3 separate regions of the Homo sapiens genome follow, and regions 2 and 3 are each reported to be linked to region 1. Evidence: microRNA targets listed by miRTarBase, many of them from high-throughput screens and not tested one by one. Region 1 holds a microRNA gene; each other region holds the end of a gene's coding sequence.
The links. Region 1 holds the annotated microRNA hsa-miR-7157-5p (UCAGCAUUCAUUGGCACCAGAGA, at 2,848-2,870, shown strand). A microRNA usually pairs through its seed, bases 2 to 8, with sites in the 3' UTR of a target mRNA and lowers its output. Matches are read on the target gene's strand: a 7mer-m8 pairs with bases 2 to 8, a 7mer-A1 pairs with bases 2 to 7 and ends in A, and an 8mer does both.

Region 2: the mRNA of CDADC1 is a reported target of hsa-miR-7157-5p. Seed matches in the 3' UTR shown: 7mer-m8 at 2,825-2,831.
Region 3: the mRNA of VPS4A is a reported target of hsa-miR-7157-5p. Seed matches in the 3' UTR shown: 7mer-m8 at 3,299-3,305 and 7mer-A1 at 1,195-1,201.

Annotation. Positions count from the first base shown.
Region 1 is chr2:140,585,291-140,589,532 of GRCh38, reverse strand. It overlaps MIR7157 (microRNA 7157), which reads left to right and starts at 2,848; the gene lies at 2,848-2,907. All of the region lies in intron 43 of LRP1B (LDL receptor related protein 1B), which reads left to right. RefSeq lists a silencer at 3,020-3,069.
Region 2 is chr13:49,291,123-49,295,361 of GRCh38, reverse strand. It overlaps CDADC1 (cytidine and dCMP deaminase domain containing 1), which reads right to left. Exons shown (of 10, transcript NM_030911.4): 10 at 1,877-3,678. The coding sequence ends at 3,605. Among named protein-coding and RNA genes, the nearest start is that of CDADC1, 45 kb to the right of the region's middle.
Region 3 is chr16:69,323,667-69,327,908 of GRCh38, reverse strand. VPS4A (vacuolar protein sorting 4 homolog A) reads right to left here. Exons shown (of 11, transcript NM_013245.3): 11 at 970-3,701. The coding sequence ends at 3,600. It overlaps COG8 (component of oligomeric golgi complex 8), which reads left to right. Exons shown (of 6, transcript NM_032382.5): 6 at 1-1,481. PDF (peptide deformylase, mitochondrial) reads left to right here. Exons shown (of 2, transcript NM_022341.2): 2 at 1-996. Among named protein-coding and RNA genes, the nearest start is that of PDF, 4.8 kb to the left of the region's middle.

The DNA of each region.
Region 1 (4,242 bases):
GTGTTTGGCTATTGTGAATGAAGCTTTCATGAATATCTGTGTACTGATTCTAGAATGAACATAATTCTTCACTCTCTGTAATAAATGTCTAAGAGTTCAATCACTGGGTCATACATTAGTGGCTTGTTTAGTTTTTTTTTAAGAAACTGACAAACTGCTTTCCAGAATGACTGTACCATTTTACATTCCCACTTACAGTTTATGAGTTATTTATATATTCTAGATGATACTTTTTTGTTGGCTATGTGGTTTGTAAATATTTTCCCCCACTTTGTAGTTTGTTTTTCCATTCTTTTCACATGAGATTTATGCTGAGCAAAATTTATTTTGATTATTTTTAATTTATATTTCTTTGTCATGGTTCATGCTTTTGATGCTAAGACTAAGAATTCTTTGCCTAGCCTTAGATTCCAAAGATTTTATTCTATTTTTTCTAAAAATGTTATAGTTTCACATTTCACATTTACATTCGTAATTCATTTTGAACTTATTTTTGCATTTGGTCAGAAACTTAGGTCAAGGTCCACTTTTTTGCCTATGGATGTCCATCTTTTTTTTTTTTTTTTCTTTGAGACGGAGTCTCGTTCTGTTGCCCAGGCTGGATGGAGTGCGTGGTGCAGTCTCGGCTCACTGCAACCTCTGCCTCCTGGGTTCAAGAGATTCTCCTGCCTCAGCCTCCCGAGTTAGCTGGGACTACAGGCGTGTGCCACCACACCCGGCTGATTTTTTGTATTTTTAGGAGAGACAGGGTTTCACCGTGTTAGCCAGGCTGATCTCCTGACCTCGTGATCCACCCGCCTTGGCCTCCCAAAGTGCTGGGATTACAGGCACGAGCCAATGCACCCAGCTGGATGTCCATCTTTTCTCTAATTGCTTGTATACTTTTTTCAAAAATCATTTGGGCATAATTGTAGGTGTCTATATTGGGGTTCCCTGTTCTTTTCCATTTATTTAATGAGTTTGCCACTCTGTCAATAACACACAGCCTTGATTTTCAAAGTTATTTTAGTTATTTTATTTTCTTTGCCATTTTGCATAAGTTTTAGAATAATCTATCCACATCTACAAAATGTCTTTCATATATCTATAGTGTCGTCAGGTATATTCTCTGTCTAACTTTTTTAGCAGTTGCTTTAGGTACTGCAGTATATATTCATTACTTATCAGTCTACAAGCATCACCATTTACCCAGTAAAGCGAAGCATAGAAACTTTACATCCCTTTATGTTTCTTTAGCCTCCCCTGTTTGTAATATAATTATCTTCAAGATTTACTCTGCACACAACAGTGTTAGATTTTTTTTGCTTCAACCATCAAACAACTTAGAAAACTCAGTATAAGGAAAGCCTACTTTTATGTACCCGTATTTTTGCTCACAGTGTTCTTTCTTTTTTCTTGATGTTCACAGGCTTCTTCTTTAATTGCTTACTTCCCTATTGCTTTCGAAAATTCCTTTTGTCCATTCTTTGCCATCTGTTGTGGCATATTATCTTAATTTCCTTTCATCTGAGACTGTTTTGATGTTCTCTTTATTTCTGATATTTTCACTTGGCATAGGTCACTGGGTTGACAGTTTTCATTTCATATTTGAGAAATATTGGGCCACTTCTTTCTGTTCTCTGTGATTTCTGATGAGATATCTATTATTATTAAAATTGTTTTCTTCTATGTAACATGTCATTTCCCCCTCGCTGCTATTAAGATTTGCTTCTTGTCTCTAGTTTTCAGAAGTTTATTTTTATTTTTAATCAGCAAATAATAATTGTGTATATCTCAGGAGTACAAGGTGATGTTTTGATATATGTATGTATTGTGGAATGATTCTTCAGGCTAATTAACATGTTAATCATAACACCCATGTACTTACTAATTTTTGTGCTATTTATCTCCAAAGTTAATTTCTCGTGTCTAACTGGAAATTTGTATCCTTTGACCAACATCTTATTCCCCATCCCATCTTCACTCCAGCCTTTGGTAGCTACTATTCTACTCTCTACTAATAAGAGTCTGACTTTTTAGATACCACGTGTGAGCTCATGAAGTATTTGTCTTTCTGTGTCTGGCTCATTTCATTTAGCATAATGTACTCCAAGTTCACCCATGTTGTCACAAATCACAATTTCAGAAGTTAAATTATGATGCGTCTTGGGTTTATAGTCTCTGAGCTTTAGTCTGCTTCTCGAATCTGTAGGTATATGTCTCTTGCCAGATTGGTGGTTTTCAGCCTTGACATTTTTCAAGTCCTTTTTAGCCCCACGCTTTCTCCTCTCCTTGTAGGACTCTTTGACATGAATGTTAGGTCTTTTACTATAGTCTCACAGGTCACTGGAGCTTCGTTCAGTTTTCTTTCTTTCTGCTTTTTCTTTGTTGTTGTGACTGGCTATTTTCTATTATTCTACTTTTTAGTTTACTGACACATCTTCCATTTCCTCCATTCTGCTGTTGAGTTTATTCACTGAACTTTTTATTTAAGTTATTTTACGTTCAGTTCTAAAATTTCCATTTTGTTCCGGTTTCTTTCTTCTATTTTTTTTACTGAGATTTTCCATTTCTTTCCTAAAGCCTTTATTTTTAAAAAAATTTTATTATAGCTACTTTTAAATCTTTTTCAGATAATTTTTACACCCCTGTCATCTTGGTGTTGGCATCTATTAGTTGTGATTTTTTCAGTCTCTTTGAAATCTTCCTAGTTCTCGGTATGATGAGTAATTTTGTTTGAACTTGAACATGTTCTACTGCATGTATCTCCGTATTTTCAACCCTTCTGTTTTTAACTGTCTTTCCCTGACATCGGTCTAGGAGGGGAAAGTGAGGGGTGCTACCCTATCGGAGTAGCAGGTCCCCCATTCAGCATTCATTGGCACCAGAGATGAAATTGGGACTCCTCTGTGCTACTGGATGAAGAGTGGGAGTTCAGGCTACCTAGATGGCCTCTACAGTGTCACCTAGAGGATGATGGTGGAAGTCCTGACCCTCCAGTGAGCTGCTTCTGACACCACCTCAGCAGAGAAGGGGTGGACACTTCATTACCATCAGGGGTGTGTGGAAGCCCAGGATCCCCACTTGGCCTTTGCTGGTGTGGGTGTGTCACAGCCTTTTTCCTGTGGTGGCTGGCTATAGTAAAGTTTTCTGCTGTGCTTGCTAGGTTGTTTCTTTCCTGGTCTTTTAGCTAGAGAGAGCAGATTATTATTTTTATTTTTTCTGTGTATGTTGCCATTTCTGGGTTGCCAGCTTATACGATTTGAGTCTGAGATATATGAGACAAAATGACACTTAGGAAACACACTTCCATGGAATTTCTTGGTCCCAAGATACCCAGCTGGGTTGCTTTTTCTCTCTACTTTTATAGTCACCTTATGTTTGTTTTATGTATAATTTCTAGAGTTTTAAGTTGTACATAAGGATCAAGAAATGTCTGTCTAGTCCATTTTTCTAGGAGCATAAGTTAGTGTGCTCATAGATTTTTAGACATTCAGAATAGAAAAAAAGGGAAACATCTATTTGAGTTTTTTTAAAGACACTTTTAAAGATCTAAGCTGATTTATGTTCTATAAGTCTGTAAAACAAGGCCCTTGCATTGCCAATGAATTTAAACAGGAATAAGACTTATTAAAGACTTATTAAACACACATGATATGGCATGAGCTGCAGGCCAAAGACATTGAAATCACTGATTTTCCACCTAAGGGAAATAAAGATTATGAAAATAAAGATGGTTGATTGTGTTGTCTAAATTTTATTGTCTTTAATGATAATGTGTAGATGTGATCACAGAGTATATAATAAAGTTTATATGAATATATGACATTGCCAAATATAGGTGTCTAAGTGAGAATAAGAAATAAGTGAAAAGAAAACTAAAATTAGTGTTAGATAACATTGTTTCAGTGTTGGACTGGTTCAAAAAAACTGTGTGATCTTGAGCAATTATTTTAATCTTTTTGAATCTCAGATTTGACATTTTGGGCTAGACTTAAAATTATTTTCCAACTCTAAGATCAGCCATTTGATATATATTTTATAACACATTCATATACATAAGAAGATGGTGCCACATCTTGAATATTTTAGACATGGAGGCAGTCTTGGTAGTAAAATAGAACATACTGCTTTTCAGGAAGCAGTATGATGTGGGAGAAATTAATAAACTTAGATTGTTTAGACATGAATTTGAAACTTAGATATAAGACCTGTTGTTTAGTAAGCCGAGGACATTTCTTAATCCTTCTACACCTTAATTTC
Region 2 (4,239 bases), not on the chromosome of region 1:
ATTTCTGAGAATCATGGGGTGGTGGGAAGTATTCCAGGAAAGTTCTGGCTCATGTCCTTCTGGAAAGACATGTGCTTTCCCTAACAAATCACTCTGTGCTACACTCACCAAAGGAGCTCCTGTCCCAAGATGGGCTCACTTCTTTCTTTCTCCTTCCCAAGTGTTACGTGGGTTTAGATATAGACATTCAGGGGCGATAAGCTCATTTATGTATCATAGTGTCACTAAAGATAGAGTTCATGTTTATAGAGTGTTGGTACCATTCATTGACCCAGAAATAAAGCTAACTTGGCCAGGCGCGGTGGCTCATGCCTGTAATCACAGCACTTTGGGAGGCAGAGGCAGGAGGATTGCTTGAGGCCAGGAGTTCAAGACCAGCCTGGGCAACATAGCAAGACCCCTGTCTCTACAAAAAATAAATAAAAAATAAACTAGCCAGGCGTGGTGGCACGTGCCTGTAGTCCCAGCTACTTGGGAGGCTGAGGTGGGGAGGACCGCTTGAGCACAGAAAACAGTCAAGGCTGCAGTGAGCTATGAAGGCACCACTGCACTCCAGCCTGGGCAACAGAGTGAGACCCTGTCTTGAAAAAGGAAAGAAAAAGCTTCAGCAGCAATACAATGAAAATACACACACCTGCGTATGTTCTGCATGACTGGGATGAAGGAAGCCAGGCAAATGCTTACACTTAGCTCCCCTCACAGTAGCATATTCTGTGGCCACTTAGGCAGTAAACAAATGGCAGAGCTATTTTTTTTTTTTTTTTTTTTTTTTACAAATTATGAACTTACCATCATCCTCCCATTCTTTGAAATTTAGAAAGACATTGTATTTTTTGTTTAAGTGTAAGTTCTGATTTCTCAGGCTAAGGGATGAAGACTGGGAATTTATAGATCTGGGTCAAAAGTGCCCCACAGAGCTTCTCCAAACCCAGGCGGGCTCCTGGGGTGGCTCAGCAGTCTGTCTCCATCACTTTTTCCCAGAAATTTGTCTCATTCCCACTGTTTACCTGGCAAACCCCTGGATCCCCTCAGGCCCCACCTCATCACCTCTGCCTCTACAGGGTCCTTTCCATGACTCCCCAGAGTGCTGGTAAATCCTCGTGTGCCCCCACTGTTCCTACAGTTACATCCACAATGGCAGTTCTCAGCCTTAAAGGTCACCAGAATCACCCGCAAGGTCGTGAAACCCCAGCTTGCTGGGCCCACCCTGAGAGGTTCTAATTCAGTAAGCCTAGGGAGCACCCTAAGAATATGCACTTCTAACAAATAGTCTGCTGGTCCAGAGACATTTTTTTCTTTTCTTTTCTTTTAGACTAAGTCTCGCTCTGTTGTCCAGGCTGGAGTGCAGTGGCATGATCTCAGCTCACTGCAACCTCTGCCTCCTGGGTTCATGTGATTCTCCTGCTTCAGTCTCCCAAATAGCTGGGATTACAGGCATGCAATACCATGTCTAGCTTTTTTTTTTTTTTTTTTTTTTTGTATTTTTAGTAGAGACGGGGTTTTACCATGTTGACCAGGCTGGTCTTGAACTCCTGACCTCAAGTGATCTACCCCACTCAGCCTCCCAAAGTGCTGGGATTACAGGTGTGAGCCACGGCACCTGGCCTGAGAATCATTTTTCTTAATTACTTGATTCCATGCTTGTATCTTCCACTTGACTGTGAGTGTCTTAAGATCAGGAGGCATTTCTCACACATCTCATCCCCGCAGTCTAGCAGTGTTTAGCAGTCATTCAATCAATAAACAAATATTTATGGAATGCCTACTGTGTGCCAGGTACTGTTCTAGACACTGGGGTTCAGCAGTTAAAAAGTACACACACACACACACACACACCTCCCTGCCCTCATAGACTTCACCTTCTGAGGCTACACAGTAAACCATCAATGATTATTTATTGAAATCTGACCAGTTGTACAGAAGAAAAAAAATGGCATTATCATGCCTCTCTTAATAGTACTGTGGAAATGCCTATTTTTCCCTTTCTAATCACAGTTTTTCCCACTTGTATGCTTCTTCCTCTGATATCCCATCCCAACACCCAACAGGCAAATCCACAGACCTGGCAATATGCCAGGATTTTGGGTCTTACAAAATATTTACTGATTGATTTATAAAATGTTTGGTGTACATGACATGTTAGTTAGAAACAACAAATCCAAGAGCTGAAGCATGAGAGTTAATACAATAAAGCAATTTGGGAGGTAAGCAATCTCAGTGTTTTTATACTGATAAGAATATCTTAATTCACGGTTTTCAAACTAGCCTTAGTTACCTCTAAGTGTACATCACCTCCTCTCCTGTCCTATCCCATGCCCTCCATCTGTGTAGTGTTTATGGCAGTTCTTGGCTGCCTTGTATGATGACTCTGAACTCCCCATGGTCCTACACAGGCTGCAGTCACAGCCCTGGCATGGAGCCAATGTTTGGATGGTCGTGCGTGTAATTCTGAGAAACTGGTAGGAAGCCCAGTGAGGCCGTGTGATGTGGCGGAAAGGCAGGGAACAAAAGCAGAGGCAAACCTGACCACCGCAGATCCAGGAAGACATTTCTCATGAAGCACCCCAGGCCACCCCTCTCTAACCTAGGAGAGAACAGAAAATGTACCTTCATTTTTGGAATAATTTTCTGAATGTTTCTCAGCAAATAAAAATGTGAGAAATCACAGACAGCAATCTGGAATAGCTGAAATGACCATACTTTCAAGACTTTCAGTATTTATTCTTGAGGTTGGCAAATGTTTTTAAAAGGCTCTTCCTTTTGAAGATCAAAGCCATGAGACAACCTATGTTAATTATACAGAAGGGAAGACTATATGGGGGAGCAGCATTTATTAATGGAATTCTAGGAAAGCTAGTTTCAATATTCCAGACTCAAATATTTCTTCTCTGTTAACATCATAACCAAATTTGAGGTTCACTGTTAGTGATTTCAAGAGTCAGTGATATCAAGCAGCGACACTGTCTCAGAATAACACTCTCTTCCTATTGCTACCCAAAGTCTGTGATAAACAGGACCACAGAATTAACATTTACAAAATATACTTTAAAAATGGAGACAAAGTCCACTAACTTTATTTTTATGAGTCAATTCTAATTAAGTAAATTCTGATTACTAGAAAGCTTTGGGTATAAATGTGATCTTTTGGTTTGCTATACACTGACTCTTAAAAGATGACACTTATTTCCCTGGAGCAGTTTACTAACTGTCACTCTTGTAATTCAAAAGAATTAATATTTCTCAAAAGGTGTGTGATTCCCTGCAGAGGCATGACCTCTTGTGAAGCAGACCCTTTCAAATTGGCTAATATAAAGTCAAGATAAATAGAAATCAGTCCCTGTTGGTGATTACATTGGTTGAAGTTATTGCTCCCTCATTTCGTGTAATAAAATAACACACTACTACATTATGGAAAACCCACACATAAATCTAAAAGACAAATATTCTTATTAACACCATTTGTATCCTAGAAATAAATTAGCTTCCTTAAAAAATCTTTTCAATTATTCACAAAATCCATCCTTATTTTCTGAATGAACAAGGCTGAATTTTAGAAGTGCAATGAAAAGTTCTTGAGGTTCCCCTGCAGTGTAGACAGGCCTTCTTAGTGGATTCCGAGGCGCAGCTTCTTGTCCTGGTGCTGCTCTTCCTTCTGTGGGACAGGTCTCAACACACCATCTAGCATTGAGAATAACGCTAGGTCAGGACAGCTTCATTTCAAACCCATGGGCACTTGTTTCAGCCTTACATGTTGTAAGAGCAAAACAATGCTTAAGTTAAAGGAACTTTCACTTTATTTTATCTTCAAATTCTCAATTGTAGAGAATCCAATCTAGATAACTTACTCTCAGGCAATACAGAATCTGGCTTTTAAAAACTGGATTCACATTGGCCGGGTGCAATGGCTCACGTCTGTAATTTTAACACTTTTGGAGGCTGAGGAGGGAGGATAACTTGATCCCAAGAGTTCAAGACCAGCTTGGGCAGCATAGGGAGACCCCATCTCTACAAAAAAAATTTTTTTTTTTTAAACAGGTGTTGTGGCGCACACCTGTAATCCCAGCTACTCAGGAGCCTGAGGTGGGAGGACTGTTTGAGCCCAGAGAGGCCAAGTCTGCAGTGAGCCATGACTGTGCCACTGCATTCCAGCCTGGGTGACACAGCGAGACCCTGTCTCAAAAAAAAAAAAAACCAAAAACTGAATTCACTCAACAGTGTACGGCAAGTAATTCATAAAAC
Region 3 (4,242 bases), not on the chromosome of region 1:
CAGCTTTGTCTTGTCAAGAGGTGAAGGAACTTGTTTTATTCTTTTATTTTTTTTTTAAGATAGAGACGGGGGTCTTACTATGTTGCCCAGGCTGGCCTCAAATTCCTGGTCTCAGGCAATCCTCCTGCCTCGGCCTCCCAAAGTGCTGGGATCAGTTGTGAGCCACACTACCCAGCCAAACTCCAGTTTTAGTTAAACTGTTTCACCTCATTTTTATGCTGAGTTTTGTAAAGTAGGTATTCTTGCTGAACAGAGTCCTGAAAATCAAACTATACAAGTAGTAGGAAGTCCATTAAGCTGTTTAGAGGAAAAAGTGTTATAAATGGCAGTTAAATGAACCCAGGAAAGACCCATCCTCCTTTGTGGCTTTCTCTGAGGCCCCATGAGGCCAAGCAGAAGCAAACTGGCTCTAGGTGCAGCCAGACTTTGAAAAGGAATCCCGGCCAGGCTTGGTGGCTCATGCCTGTAATCCCAGCACTTTGGGAGGTCAAGGCAGGCAGATCACCTGAGGTCAGGAGTTCAAGACCAGCCTGGCCAACATGGCGAAACACTGTTTCTACTAAAAATATGAAAATTAGCTGGGTGTGCTGGTAGGCGCCTGTAATCACAGCTACTTGGGAGGCTGAGGCGGGAGAATCGCTCAAACCTGGGAGGCAGAGGTTGCAGTGGGCTGAGATCTCGCCACTGTACTCCAGCCTGGGCGACAGACCAAGGCTCTGTCTCAAAAAAAAAAAAAAAAAAAAAAAAAGGGAATCCCAACCAGATACTGGTGCAAGGTCAGAGATGCAGCCAATGGGGAGATTTGTAGAAAGCTCATAGATGCTAAAAACATGGGTCTTTAGGAAAATTAGAATTCAGCTGAGCCTCCTTTCATTTGGACAATGTTCAGAAGCTCTTACAGGGGGCTATGGCAATCTTTTGATGCTTCTTATAGCTTTCTGAGGTTAACGCTTTTGTGGTGGGCATCGGTAGCAATAAAATGCAAACTTTATTGCATTTCCAGTAAAATCTCTCCCACTTTGAGCAGGAAGCACTCACAAAAAACGCATATACATGTCAACGTTGTGAGCTCATCAGAGTTTTAGAAATCAACTTCCACAGTGAAAGCCAATGTAGGCAGAAGGTTTATAACAGAATCCCCAGGCAGAGAAGTGAATTTCAGAGCATTTCAGGGAGGAAACTCCTCTGCACATGTCAGCATGTTTAACATCGATGATGGCAGGTTGTGTGCTGGCAGCCAGAGTCTGAGGCCACTGTCCAAAGTTCAGCGTCAGTGGTTCCTGTTGCTGGTCATGGAGAGAGACAACTGGAAAGTCAGGTGTCTTCACGCTCTAACTAGAGCACAGGGATGGACCATAGCCATGCTAACCTTTGTTAACCCCTAGGACTTGTCAAGGTGTTTAAGCAGTAGGAATGAGGAAACAACGTTCTGATTCAAGTAAATGTAACTAGAAGTAAAAATTTAAAAACTTGTAAGCTCACTAAAGTGAAGCTCTGCAGACACGGTTCATATCCTGGTGGCTGAGGGCACATAACCAAGAACTTACACAAGCACCCCCAAGCCACAAAGATCCCAGCTGCTATGGTTGAGGGGTAACCTGCCAGCACTGGAGCCAAGTGTTGGAGCTACTGATCCAAAGTTAGCTCACTTCTGCAGAGGCTCTGAACCAGAGCAAAGAAATGGCCCAGTGCAAGCCCAGTGTGAGCCAAGAGTTGGCCATGTAATCAGTTCTGGCCCAACCAGGTTTGAAAGGTAGAGGAGCAGTACTGGGTTTTGGAGAGGGAAGGTTGGAACAAAGCCCTTTGCAGGCTATAAGCTTCATTTACTAGGCCAGGTCTTTCTGTGTGAATGTGCTTTGACTTTGGTCTGTTTATATGCATGGGGTAAACGTGGGACAGCCTCTGCAGCTTCACTGCCTGCCGGACGTGGGTCCAGGGCTGCCAGCTCTGGGTCCTTGGTCTGTTGGGGGTCGCAAACTGAAATGGCCATGGGGCTATCTGGGCAGGCAACACAGATGAGTGGGGATGGGGGACCCCTTCTGTACAGAGCAGCCTCTACTTAGTGGCCGCTGACAGGCTGCCCCATGAGGACGCAGGCCCAACATTACCTAATTTAATCTTCTAGAAGTCAGAATTCTGAATTTTTATGTCAACTCTCGACTTTTTTTTTTTTTTTGAGACAGAGTCTTGCTCTGTCGCCCAGGCTGGAGTGCAGTGGCGCGATCTCGGCTCACTGCAAGCTCCGTCCCCCGGGTTCACGCCATTCTCCTGCCTCAGCCTCCCAAGTAGCTGGGACTGCAGGCGCCCACCACCACGCCCGGCTAATTTTTTTATTTTTAGTGAGACGGGGTTTCACTGTGTTAGCCAGGATGTTCTCGATTTCCTGACCTTGTGATCCGCCCGCGTCGGCCTCCCAAAGTGCTGGGATTACAGGCGTGAGCCACCGCGCCCAGCAACTCTCGACTTTTAAATGTTAGCGGCCCAAAGTGCTGGGATTACAGGCGTGAGCCACCGCGCCCAGCAACTCTCGACTTTTAAATGTTAGCGGCAGACCAAACCAAACAAACACAGCTGCAGGACGGGTCTGGTACGCAGGGCTCCCACTTTGCAGTCTCTGATCTGTAGGCCGAACAACGGCAAGAACTGTCTGGATCCCACAAACATCCCCAGCCAAACTTCTGAGGCCTTAAGGGGAGGAGGCCTTGCACACCTGACTGGAGAACAGGCCTAAGAACTGCAGTGTTCTGTTTCCTGCTCTGCTTTAGAAAAGAGAGGAGACAGAAAACCAGAGGGTCTTTTAATTGGAAGCAAGGGTGGCCCTTCAGAGTCTCAGTTAAGAGTCAAGGAAAGATGAGATCACTTGGGTAGCTCAAGAAGGGAAAAGGATTTATTAGACCATTTCCAGGACAGGGACCCAGGGGCAGTGGCTGGGTTCAGTGTTCTCACGCTCAGAGGAAGAAAAGGCAGTGGTGAACACCCGCCTGACTGCCTTACCCTGATCTAAACGACACCATCTCCTCCCCCAAGGAAGACACAGCCCTGGATGTGAACCTAGGAGGGTGGGAATGGCTTATGTCACTCGGTCTTTGAGGCAGAGCTTGGGCTGGGGTTGCAGGGGCATCAGCCAATCTGCTCTCAAGGAGCAAAACTTGGGCGTAAAAGGAACGGGCAGTGGGGCTAGCCGGCTGTCTGGAGGTCTGGGTGACCTGGCAGCACGGCTGCTTCTCCCCCGCCACCCCGCCCCACTCCTTGACACTTCCAGGTGATTTTATCTTTATAAATAAGATGAAAATCCAAGCAGCATTAATTTAGGGGAACAAAAGATGGAAAAAAAAGGGGGGGAGGCAGAAGGAGCTGATGAGCATCCAGGAGAGGAGGAAGTAGGAAGAGCAGTGTCCACTGTGTGCCCCAGGGCAGTGGAGTGTCTCTGTGGCTGCAAGGCCCTTCCTTCTGGCTCCCTGGCAGACGGCCAGACAGCAGAGGGAACTCTGTATTGACTGGGACAAGCCCTGGAGCCCTGTCTGGCTGTTGACATGGGGAGTGCCTGGATTTGCCCCAATCAACCTCCCACCTTCACCATTGCCCAAGTGAAGCAGCTTTTAACTCTCTTGCCCAAAGTCCTCTGAGAATTTCTTCACTTTCAGGAGGTCGTCTGCATTCACCGTGGGCCGGGTGGTGGCCAGAGACCGCAGCATGTCCGACTGTGAAGGCAACAGTATGTGCCTGAGCAGGAGCCAGGCTCCAGGTCCCCAACCTCCCCTCAGCACACAACAGGCGCAGCTGAGGGTGGGAAGAGGTTTGCCTTCAAGGCCACCCCAGAGGCCTGCTTGAATCTGCCTATGGCAGGGACCCTCTTCCCTCTCGAGGCAGCTCAGATGGGCCTCCTCCTGGTCTGAGAATCTAAGCTCCATCATCTCATAACTCCCCTTACGAACTTGCTTTCTTTTTTTTTTTTTTTTTTTTTGGAGACGGAGTCTGTCACCCAGGCTGGAGTGCAGTGGCATGATCTCGGCTCACCGCAACCTCCACCTCCTCGGTTCAAGTGACTCTCCTGCCTCAGCCTCCCAAATAGCTGGGACTACAGGCACGTGCCACCACACATGGCTGATTTTTGTATTTTTAGCAGAGACGGGGTTTCACTATGTTGGCCAGGCTGCTCTTGAACTCCTGACCTCAGGCGATCTGCCCGCCTCGGCCTCCCGAAGTGCTGGGATTACAGGCGGGAGCCACGGCGCCCGGCCA